Linked DNA regions of Homo sapiens. The protein of the gene in region 1 purifies or fractionates together with the protein of each later gene. This does not show direct contact. Each region holds a gene or a part of one and is shown in the gene's direction. Other genes may lie near its edges. The genes, in order: TMEM62, HERC3 and UFD1.

Region 1 (3,654 bases):
AGGAACCACAATATCTCTGAAATATGCATGCAGTTTAATGCTTTGTTTTGGCTAATGGTACTTTTAATATTCCACACGGGCTTAAAAAATTGTTTAAGTCATTGATACATAGGAAAAGTCATTTATATCAGAGCTTGTCAGCCACACTACTGAGGTCACTGGGTTTTCAGAATCCTGAGATACTGATTCTCCTGGCCTCTGTGGTGGCTGGAGAGCCCAGTTAGTCACCTGGCTGCTTTATCTTTTCATCCTGTGTCATACAAATATTAAAATAATCTTTATTTGTCACAAATGTGAAAAGGCAAGGGATCTCTGAATTAGAAACCAATTGTCTAGTTTCATTATGTTTAGATTCCTCTTTTGGTTGCAGTGCACTTTTCAGCCTCAGGGTATTCAGTAGCTTTGTTCTGCATTGTCAATCAATCATGTAGCAAATATTTATTGAGAATCCATCCCTAGTTGGATAGTGTGAGAGATACATGAGTTAATGTTAAAAATTTGGCTTTTGCCTTCAAGGAACTGATAGTGTAGTTAAGGGACATCAGAATTATTTAGGAAACAATTAGAAAATAACATGAAGAAATGGCCGAGGAAATGCTAGATTATTTGGTACACATGATAATCACTATGAGAAATTAGAAAAGCATGGGGGTGGACATAGAGAAGACTTTATAAAAGAAGCAAAAAGTGTGTCCAATCTTAAAAGATGAGTAGCATTTGAAGAAGTAAGACATGCCAAGGAGGATATTTTAGGCAAAAAGATAGGTATGAAGAGATCTTTAAAAGCTACAGACTGGGAAACCAAAAACTGAACTTTGCAGGGGCAGTAAGAAAACTGGTGTCACCAGAATTAACATTCATACTGAGGACTAGTATGACACTGGATAGGCAGCCTAGGGCTAATTTATGGAGGTCTTAAGTAACAAGCATAGAAGTTGAGATGTGATGGGTAATAGTTCATAATTCAGCATAGGTTCTTAAGGAGGCAAGTAACATAATTAAAATAGTGTTTTATAAATGGCAATCCCACAATAAAAAAGGAAAAAGATGGGATAAAAAGGAAAAAAGAGATATTGGAGTTATGTGGACTAAATAGGAGGGTCCTGCAATAGTCTAGTCATGATAATGAAAAGTCATACCCATCTGAACTAAGTTCTTGGATATGGAGATGGTGACATCAATTTGAGGATGATAGGTCAAAAAGCACTGGTTAACTGAGTTTGTATGATTAGAGTCACCATACATTGGAAGAGGAGGTTGTTCTCTTTTGTTAATGTGAGAAAGGAAGAGGACAGAGATGAAAATCTTTCACTTCCTGTTAACTGTTTGTATCTTTCATGGTGACTGTGGGGAGTTAGGAGACATGTTCAAAAGTAATTAACAGGACTTGGGGCTGAGTGGTTATTGGGAAAGTAAAGTGAATAGTCACTTTAAAGTTTCTTACCTTTGTATTTTTGTTTTTAGCCACCTAAACTTTATCTGAATTTAATAAATGGCATTTTACTAAAAATATAAATATTACAGAAATACCAATCTGAAGAAAAAAAATTAAAGTTAAATCTTGATCTTAAAAATGTCCCAGAGAGGAGGCAGAGCTTGCAGTGAGCCAAGATCGCGTCACTGCACTCCAGCCTGGGCGACAGAGTGAGACTCCGTCTCAAAAAAAAAAAAAAAAGATTCTGAGGAATAACTGAACATAAAATAAGCAAGAAAAAATATAAGTAAAAATTTTAATTTAGAATAAAACCCTGAAATAGAATTTTTTTTTTTTTTTTTTTGAGACAGAGTCTCATTCTGTCATCTAGGCTGGAGTGCAGTGGCACGATCTCCACTCACTGCAAGCTCCGCCTCCCGGGTTCAAGCCATTGTCCTGCCTCAGCCTCTGGAGTAGCTGGGACTACAGGCGCCCGCCAGCACGCCCGGCTAATTTTTTTGTATTTTTAGTAGAGATGGGGTTTCACCATGTTAGCCAGGATGGTCTCGATCTCCTGACCTCGTGATCCGCCTACCTCGGCCTTCCAAAGTGCTGGGATTACAGGCGGGAGCCACCGCGCCTGGCCCTGAAATGGAAATTTAAAAAATACCAAGAAGAAAGGCAGTAGAACTAATTGACATTGTTTAAATTGGGTTTGACTAATTTCTGAGTATTAGTTGTAATGTCTATATCATATATTTACTCGGGTTACATTATATTTGATGGTTGTTGTGGCCCACTAGCATATTAAATTTCAGGAGTTTATTTGTATTTTTAAATATATGCTGTTAGGTAAAAATCATGTAAGACACTTAGATAAATGATAATACCAACTTTTCTTATAATGTTCTGACATTTGAATAATATAGGTATGCCCTCCAATAAAATCTATACTTTCCTTCTTATTTATTCAACACATACTTAATGAGTGCCTGCCCTGTACTGTGTTACTCATCCTTTCTTCCTGGTCTTCACTCTGCAGTTTTATGGACACCTGAACACTGTTGACGCTTAAGGTGGTAAACTTTCATTAGTGGATATAGACCCTGTGTATGTTATCAATATATCTTTAGGAACTGAAAAAGATTTAACAACCCAGACCTAGACTAATATTTTTTCTCCTTGCTTGAAGACTTCATCTTTGCAAGTCTTTCTTGTGAATTAAGCCTCTGTAGTCCTGTTTCAAGAAGTAGACAGCTTTTTTATCTCACTACACCAAGAATTCTAGGTACTTAGTATGCCCTCACTAAATCTGCAAATGATTGATAAATACTGTTCCACTGGATTTTGATTTCTTTTTGAACATTTAATGGACTCCCTAAAAGAGCCGTCTTACTTCTGAACTTGGTGAACTTGTATTTGGTTATTGAATGAGTTTGCATGAGTCTTTGGGGACAATGGGAGAAAAACTTTGAAATTTCATCAGTTTATCCATTGTGGATCTAGTTTAGTATATTTCTGTCAGATCAGCAAATCTCGTTTTCAAAGGAAGGTAAAATCTAGCGTATTAGGGAAGGAATTTTAAAGCATTGTCTTTTTATTACACTAACACCCTCCTGTCTTCTATTTTTTAGGAAATATTCTGCTGTACGTAGAGATGGCTCTTTCCATTATGTCCACAGTACTCCCTTTGGCAACTATTCGTTCATCTGTGTAGATGCCACTGTAAATCCAGGGCCTAAGAGACCCTATAATTTCTTTGGAATTTTAGATAAGGTGCAGTAAAAATCTTACTTCCCTTTGTAGCTTACTTATTTTTTCATGGATACGTGTGGATCACTTAAAGTTATCAAAAGTAAACTAGTTGTTATCTAGGAATGCTTTGGAGAAATTTAACTTGGTTACAGGTATGGCTAGAAGTTACTGGCTATTTCAGCACTATTTTTGCTATCCTTTTTCTTGTCCCAAAATCTGAGAAAGAAGTACCTCACACTTTATGGAGTAAACATTTATTAAATAGGTACTGAGTACAGGATGCACTTTGCAAGTTACAGGACATACAGCTTTGTGTGGTATATTCCTAAGTTCCCACAATTGCCAGTTCTAACTAGTGTTTATTTTTTGAGACGGAGTTTTGCTCTGTCGGCCAGGCTGGAGTGCAGTGGTGTGATTTCAGCTCACTGCAACCTCCACATCCCAGGCTCAAGCAATTCTTGTGCCTCAGCCTCCCAAATAGCTAA
Region 2 (3,654 bases), on another chromosome or scaffold:
TCTAGTTGATGTGAAACAGAGAGGTGGCAATATCAGAAGAAATCTTACCTGACTTTCAAGTTTTAGAGTTTTTTCATTTTTATTTTTCCAGGCTGGAAAATACAAAGAGAACATAATTGTTCAATTTTACACTTTATTTTTAACTTCTAATTATTGATATTTAAAAGAATACCCCAAAGTAGAGAGTATGCTACAGGTAGTCACCACACAAATTCAGCAGTTGTCAGTATTTTGCCCATTTTATTTCATCTGTCCCTCGCCCTCACCACCTTTTTATTTTTTGTTGGAGTATTTTAAAGGAAATCTCAGACATACTATTTCATTCTTTAAGTATTTCAGTATGGCTGAGTTTATTTCCAACGAAGTATAAGCCAGTGGTATATCTTCTTGTCTGGTTATGAGAAAGCATTTTTTGGTGAGAAGTAAAAATCGTAGTTTTTCAACTAATGATACCTCTTAAAGGGAAGGGAATGGTTGCCATATTGGTGCTGCTTCTAGGGTATGTGGTGCGTCATCCTTTGCATTTCTGCTTCAGGATTTAGTGATGGCTGAAAGCGCTAGGACATAAGAATGCTTTTTGGATTAATACATTGGGCATCACTCCTGCCCAAAATATGTGTATCTTGTCCACATGTAGTCTGGAATTGGACTTTTAAGTTAACCTTCAGATTGAGTCTTTGCAAAAAATCAGACCAGGCTTTACAAAAAAAGCTCCAGGGATTCTTTTACAGCTGTTGTTCTCCCCAAAAAGGTTTTAATGGATTCTTTTTAAAGTCAGTTTTGGGAAAATGTATTTTAGACTAATGTTTATCTTCTAGACAAAGCAATTTTTAACTGGCAGGCAGAAGACATAAATACTTGCCCAAGATTACATGTTGAAATATGTCTTTTCTTTCTTTCTAAAGATAACTGGTGGTCTCAGGTATGCCCGAAATATTTCATGAAGCTGGTAAACCTCTATAAAGGTGCAGTCCTTTATCTACTGAGGGGAAGAAAGACATTCTTAATTCCCGTACTGTTTAACAATTATATCACAGCAGCTCTCAAACTCTTGGAGAAGTTATATAAGGTGAGCATAGGAGGTGCTAGTGGGGAGGGGGTGATTAGATGGTAGGGTAAAATGTCCTAGTGAGATGTTCTCTGGGAAGCCATGTTTCAGTTGTCTGTATTTTGTTCTTCATTAGGTAAATCTTAAAGTGAAGCATGTGGAATATGATACATTTTACATTCCTGAGATTTCCAATCTCGTGGACATTCAGGAAGACTACCTCATGTGGTTCTTGCATCAAGCAGGGATGGTAAGAATTCATAAAGCATATTTTAAAGCTTTAGTCTTTTTATAAGAAAAGCACATGTGAGCTGTATAATATGTCTTTGACTTTGATGTCAGTGTGTCACCTATTCTTCATCCAGCTGGCCTTTTGCATTCTAGAAACTTGGAAGTGCTTTAAGTAATCATCAATGTTATAAGGAGTCATAAATGAGTAGTCACCCAGAATGTTACACATTTTATCAGTTGCCCCCTTTAAAAAAATCAGAGTATCTAAAGTAGTCAAATCCACAGAAACAGAAAGTACAGTGGTGATTGCTAGGGGCTGGAGGCAGGGGAAAATGGAGAGTTGCTATTTAATGAGTATAGCTTCAGTTTTGCAAGATAAGAAAGTTTGGAGATCCAATTGTACACCAGTGTGACTATACTTAACACTGCTGAAAGTGTACACTTAAAAATGCTTAAGATGGTACATGTTATGTTAGGTTTTTTTTTAAACCATAATTAAAAAAACAAGACACATACAAATATGAATTTTTAGCTTTCCTCAAAACTTGGAAGATCTGGCAACACGACCTGTCTTCCCATATGACACCAAGTGGCTGGAGTTCAAGAGTGACTCTTTAGATGAGGCTTATGTATATGCCACAATTCCCACTGCAGCGTAATTTATCCCTGACATTGAGGAAGGGTCATTTGCTAATTATCATCTTCTGACAGCCTACTCCAGTCATCATATGTCAGCTACCTGGACCCCGTAGGCCCCTTCTGATTGAGAATTATGTGTGTGAAAGTGTCACACATCCCTGACCAAGTGCTGTCTCACCGTATTTTAGATATGCCATTCAGGGGCCTGTGGATTCCTGCCTACCACCTCTGGCGTGGCAGGAACTGCTCCTTTTGATAGCACACCAGCTTGGGATATATGCAAGGCTCTTTAGGATCTCCCATCTGTGGAGTATGTGCAAATTTGAGTTAGGTCAGAAAACAGAATGATAATTTGGTTATTGTATTTTGTGAAGCCATGTGCAGCAGATTTGAGGTGAGTCCTTGCCAGTGTAGCAGGTTCATCACCAGTATTAGGGCAATATTTTTCCTGTGGGGTTTTTGGAAGTCAGCAGTTGTCTCCAAAAGCAAGACATTTAAATAGGCTGATCTAACTGAACAAGAAGGATTGTTTTCTTTGTCAAATAATAGATGATGAATGCTAGACACAATGTTGTATTTTTTTCTCTAGAGACTTAAAAAATGCATACAATGTTTTATTTTTAAATAAGATTTTATGATTACCCTGAGAAAACAAAATACTTTTTTTTTGAGACAAGGTCTGGCTCTATCACCCAGGCTGGAGTGCAGTGGCACCATCTTGGCTCACTGCAACCTCTGCTTCCCAGGCTCAAGCCATTCTCCCACCTCAGCCTCCCGAGTAGCTGGGACTACAGGTGCGTGCCATCATGCCTGGCTAATTTTTGTATTTTTTGTAGAGATGGGGTTTTGTGATGTTTCCCAAGCTGGCCTTGAACTCATGAGCTCAAGTGATTCACCAGCCTCGGCCTCCCAAAGTGCTGGGATTACAGGGGTAAGCCACTGTGCCTGGCCAGGAAAATACTTTTTAATATAAATGAGTTAGAGTGTTCTAAATGGGCTGACTTGGGAAATTTAACATGGAGGCTAGTAATGAACTCTGTTTTCACTTTCAAATTTAGGAATTATTAAAAAATAAGCCCTTCTGTTTTATCAATTTATGAATAATTATTCACTGAATAATAACATTATGAGCAGAAAAATAAGCCTGATGAATTATTTAGTCCAACTGCTTTGTTTCTAGATGAGGAAATGGAAGTTAAACAATTTTTCCACTAATTTCATTAGTAGCAGTAAAAGTCAATTCTTCTGATTTCTAATCTACCCTTTCTGTGACTTGATGCTGAATAAAATAAGTCTAACAAATTGTAATTCTTTTTTACTCTGAAAAAGAAGTTGCTCATGTTAAAATCTAGATTATTATGACAGTAGTCTCTGAGTAGAGATATTTAAGTAACTTTTACAATATTTTAAACTTCCTTTCTTTTAACATTTGATAAATATCTTATCAGATCTTGAATAACAGATGCTCATCTCTTCAATAACTATAATAGTTATTAAAGAAATATGGAAAATTACATGAAATTAGTATATGGCCTTTTGTGATTTTTGTGGAATTTTTTTTATTGTATGAGGTACAATGCTATTAGAAATTGAATTTTAAATGTCTTGATATTTTGAAGTTTAATTTAAAATACTAAAGCTATTTCATATGTTATTTTTGTTTAACTACTTTTAAATAATAGATGGATTTTTTTGATGTGTGTTGGCATTTTTAGCTTGTTAATAGCTGAGGCTGT
Region 3 (3,654 bases), on another chromosome or scaffold:
ATAGCATTCAGGTCTTTGTGCAGAGTCCCTTCCTAACCACCTATTTAAAATAGCATTCCCAGGAGCCCTGTGTCTACTTACCCTGCTGCTTGTCTTCAGAACTGCCAGACACACATGTGTGTGTGTCCGTTGCTTGGAGTGTATATCTCTCTTGCTTTGAGTGTCATTTTCACCAGGACAGGGGTGGTATCTATTTTGTTAGTGGACAGACATCACTGGAGTGGTGCTTCCCTTGTGCTCATATCAGAGCCTGGCAGACAGTAGGCACTCAATAAAGAGATGTTTCAATTAACAAATATTGTTTAGATTAATGATAATAGGAAAAGTGTTCAAGGCAGAGGAACTAGCCCAGGCAGGAGTCTGTGGGGCTGTCAGTACAAGTCTCTGAGGTATGCAAGAGGTTGGGCCTTGATCCTGAGGATGAAGATGGGAGCATAGCCCTGAAAAAGGTTCAGGACAGGCTTGGCATGGCCTGTTTTGTATTTAGTAAGATTACATTGAAGATTTCAGTACATTGTGTTCTCTGACAATGTTTAGTAGCATTAATTACTCTGACATGTTTTGGCTTTTGACATGAAGAAATGTACCTTTGTTTTAATACTTGTTTCTCTTTCCTCCTTCTAGTTCTCTTTCAACATGTTCGACCACCCTATTCCCAGGGTCTTCCAAAACCGCTTCTCCACACAGTACCGCTGCTTCTCTGTGTCCATGCTAGCAGGGCCTAATGACAGGTCAGATGTGGAGAAAGGAGGGAAGAGTATGTGCTTGTTTTTATTTGAATAGTAACTTTTCCTGCCCTAAGTCTGCAATGCTGTAGCCTTCAACAGTACTTACTTTGCATGTGGGAGTCAGAAGCTAGTGTTACTGTGAAAATGGTGCTGGGATTTATCCCTGACTTGCTCTGTTGGGGTGGGGTGCTAATTATGGTTAGGTTTATGGCTGATAACCATTCAGTTCCCAAAATAAATTACATCAAGTAAGATTCTTCATGAAAGATCACTGGGACATTCTGGCTACCCTAAAAACAGTTTAAGGCTTTTTGTTAGATATAAAGAAACTGCATCTTGCCTTTGGTCTGTCCTTTTTATTTTTATTTTTTAATATTTCTTAAATGTTCTTTCCACAGTAATTATGCCACCCTCGGCCCTGGACCAACTCAGTAAGTATCTTCTGAGTGACTTAAGGACTTAGATAATGTACATATGGACACCAAGAGTCAGCATGGGCTCCTCAGTACATCCAGACACCAGTGCCCTTTGTCAGCATCTGGTTGTGAATTGTCCGTGGAGGGCATGCGCTGGGCTGGGAGAACCTGGGTCACAGGTACCTAGGGCGAGGCCAGGGCCCCCTGAACCTCAGCTTCATCACTGCCCTGGGTGCTTCAGGTTCCTCCTCTGTGAAGGGGGTTCCCTTTCCCTTCCTGATCACCACCTCCACCCACCCCCCAACTGTTCTCAGTATTCTGTCAGGATTAAGTGAAGGTACAAGTATCAAGTGCTTTGTACCGTGCCAGGGCAGCTGATGCCATTGGCTGGGCTCACTAGATTTTTTTCCTAAAGGAAGAATTGGTCAGCTCACAAGAGGGCGCTGTGAGCAGGTTCCTCATCCCCTCACCAAACATCTTTCCTGAGCTCCAGACCCCCATTTCTTTTCTTTTATTTATTTATTTATTTATTTTTTGAGACAGAGTTTTGCTCTTAGCGCCCAGGCTGGAGTGCAGTGGCGCAATCTTGGCTCACTGCAACCTCTGCCTCCCAGGTTCAAGTGATCCTCCTGCCTCAGCCTCCCGAGTAGCTGGGATTACAGGCACCCGCCACCACGCCCGGCTAATTTTTTGTATTTTTAGTAGAGATGGGGTTCCGCCATGTTGGGCAGGCTGGTCTTGAACTCCTGACCTCAGGTGACCTGCCTGCCTCGGCCTCCCAAAGTTATGGGATTATAGGCGTGAACCACCATGCCCGGCCCAGACCCCCGTTTCTAATCTCCAGTGCACCAATGCATCCTCAGCATGTCAAAAACTGAGCTATTGTCTTCCATCCAGAAGCCACTCCTCTTGCTGGGCTCCTGCCTCTTACCAGGAGTGAGATAGGCCCACAGGGGTTCTAAGAGTGGCCACATTCTTCCTCCCTTTTCTCTGACCCCTTATCCCATGAGAGCAACCTGGAAACCCATGCCCTAGCCCCATACTACACAGGCACAGAAAATCCCTATCATGGACAACCCAATCAAGGATGCAGTCATTGCCTTCCAGACTTAAAGAGTGTTTCTGGTGTGAATTCTTCCTGTGTGAGGCAGGAGACTGGGGTTGGCCAGGAGGACAGGTTCATGCTTGGTTTTGGGGGCCTCTGGTGGCAGCAAGCAGAGAACAGGTGCTGGCTGTGGTGTGACTCACCTCGGGCTCTTTGCCCAGCCTGACTCCAGAGTAGCAACTTGACCTCTCTGAACCTCAATGTCCTCTTCTTTAATTGGGGATATCTACAGTGTCTGTGCATCAGAAGTACTGTAGTGTCTGTGACAACCTAAGCTATCCGATTCCAACCACAAGGTGGAGGTAGCCCCTGAGCCAGCACTGGCTGTGGCTATACCCAGTGGAGGCCTCAGCTCAACCAGTAGGTCAACAGAGCTATGGAGTTCACAGTTCTCACGAAGACCCTGTCATTACAGAGGAGAGAACAGGCTCCCTAAAAAGGTCTTCCTTTCAAGTCATGCTGACCCAGGAGCCAGACACCAGGGGTGACCCTTGGCACAGGTGTCCAGAAGAGACTCAGGGGCTGGGTCATTGAGGTGTAGCTCAGATCAGTGTTGTTCAAATCTTTTAAGTGATGGGAGAAACTCTTTCTGTCTAAATCTTATAGGAAGTCCTCTAATTCATAAAATGAGGTTCTCTGCTTTTTTTGGAGAAAGTGAGGGGGTACAGAGGGACTGGGAGCCCCAGGGCACTGGGAGCCTCTAAGTCACAAAATGCAGTTTGAGAGTCAGTGGACTGAGGGACATTGGAGTCTCTTTCACTTGCAACAATCTCAGACCCTTGGCTGAGCCCAGTCCAGTTTACTGTGGACCAGCTGTATGTCAGCTCCATGGCTGTGCAGCTGAGAGGTGGACCGGGACAGAGGTCCTGGCCCCTTTACTGCCAGTGTGAGAGTCACCCTTGGTGATAGGAGGGAGTGCCCACCCTTACTGTACCTCCATGCTACTCTCAGAGGTTCTCTGTAGCTTCCTGCCCAAGCTTTTAACTTGATTTGCTTTATTAGAATTTTTAGGGAGATCTCAAATGGAATCTGCGTTACTTCCTAACACTAAGTGTGATTTTTATTGGAATATTTGTCTGAACTAACAAGCTAAATTCTGCTTTGATGGTTGAATCCCTGGACTTAAGCCAGCAGCCTTGGTTTGAATCCTGGCATCACCACTTGTGTGCTGTGAGGTCTTGTGTGCTCACCACTTGTGTGCTGTTACTTAACCTGTGGGCCTTAGTTTCCCCATAGATAAAAGGGGATAATGATAGTACCTACCTGACTGTTCTGGGAAGACTGAACAAGGGCCTTACACATGGCAAACACCATCACTACCATCAGTTCCTTCTCGGTCTTCTCCCGGGGGCCCAGTGTCTCCTGGGTTTTCCTGCCTCTTTTTGCCAGCCCTTCCTTTATGTGC

What was found.
Region 2: the proteins of TMEM62 (region 1) and HERC3 purify together in Homo sapiens (affinity purification with mass spectrometry, with the first as the bait; one large-scale study listed by BioGRID). This does not show direct contact.
Region 3: the proteins of TMEM62 (region 1) and UFD1 purify together in Homo sapiens (affinity purification with mass spectrometry, with the first as the bait; one large-scale study listed by BioGRID). This does not show direct contact.

Annotation. Positions count from the first base shown.
Region 1 is NC_000015.10:43,143,445-43,147,098, forward strand, and holds part of TMEM62 (transmembrane protein 62), read left to right. Parts: intron 1-3,048; coding exon 3,049-3,190; intron 3,191-3,654.
Region 2 is NC_000004.12:88,668,955-88,672,608, forward strand, and holds part of HERC3 (probable E3 ubiquitin-protein ligase HERC3), read left to right. Parts: intron 1-905; coding exon 906-1,069; intron 1,070-1,184; coding exon 1,185-1,298; intron 1,299-3,654. UniProt on the Homo sapiens protein: E3 ubiquitin-protein ligase which accepts ubiquitin from an E2 ubiquitin-conjugating enzyme in the form of a thioester and then directly transfers the ubiquitin to targeted substrates.
Region 3 is NC_000022.11:19,472,573-19,476,226, reverse strand, and holds part of UFD1 (ubiquitin recognition factor in ER-associated degradation protein 1), read left to right. Parts: intron 1-623; exon of another isoform or gene 624-624; coding exon 625-757; intron 758-1,126; coding exon 1,127-1,159; intron 1,160-3,654. UniProt on the Homo sapiens protein: Essential component of the ubiquitin-dependent proteolytic pathway which degrades ubiquitin fusion proteins.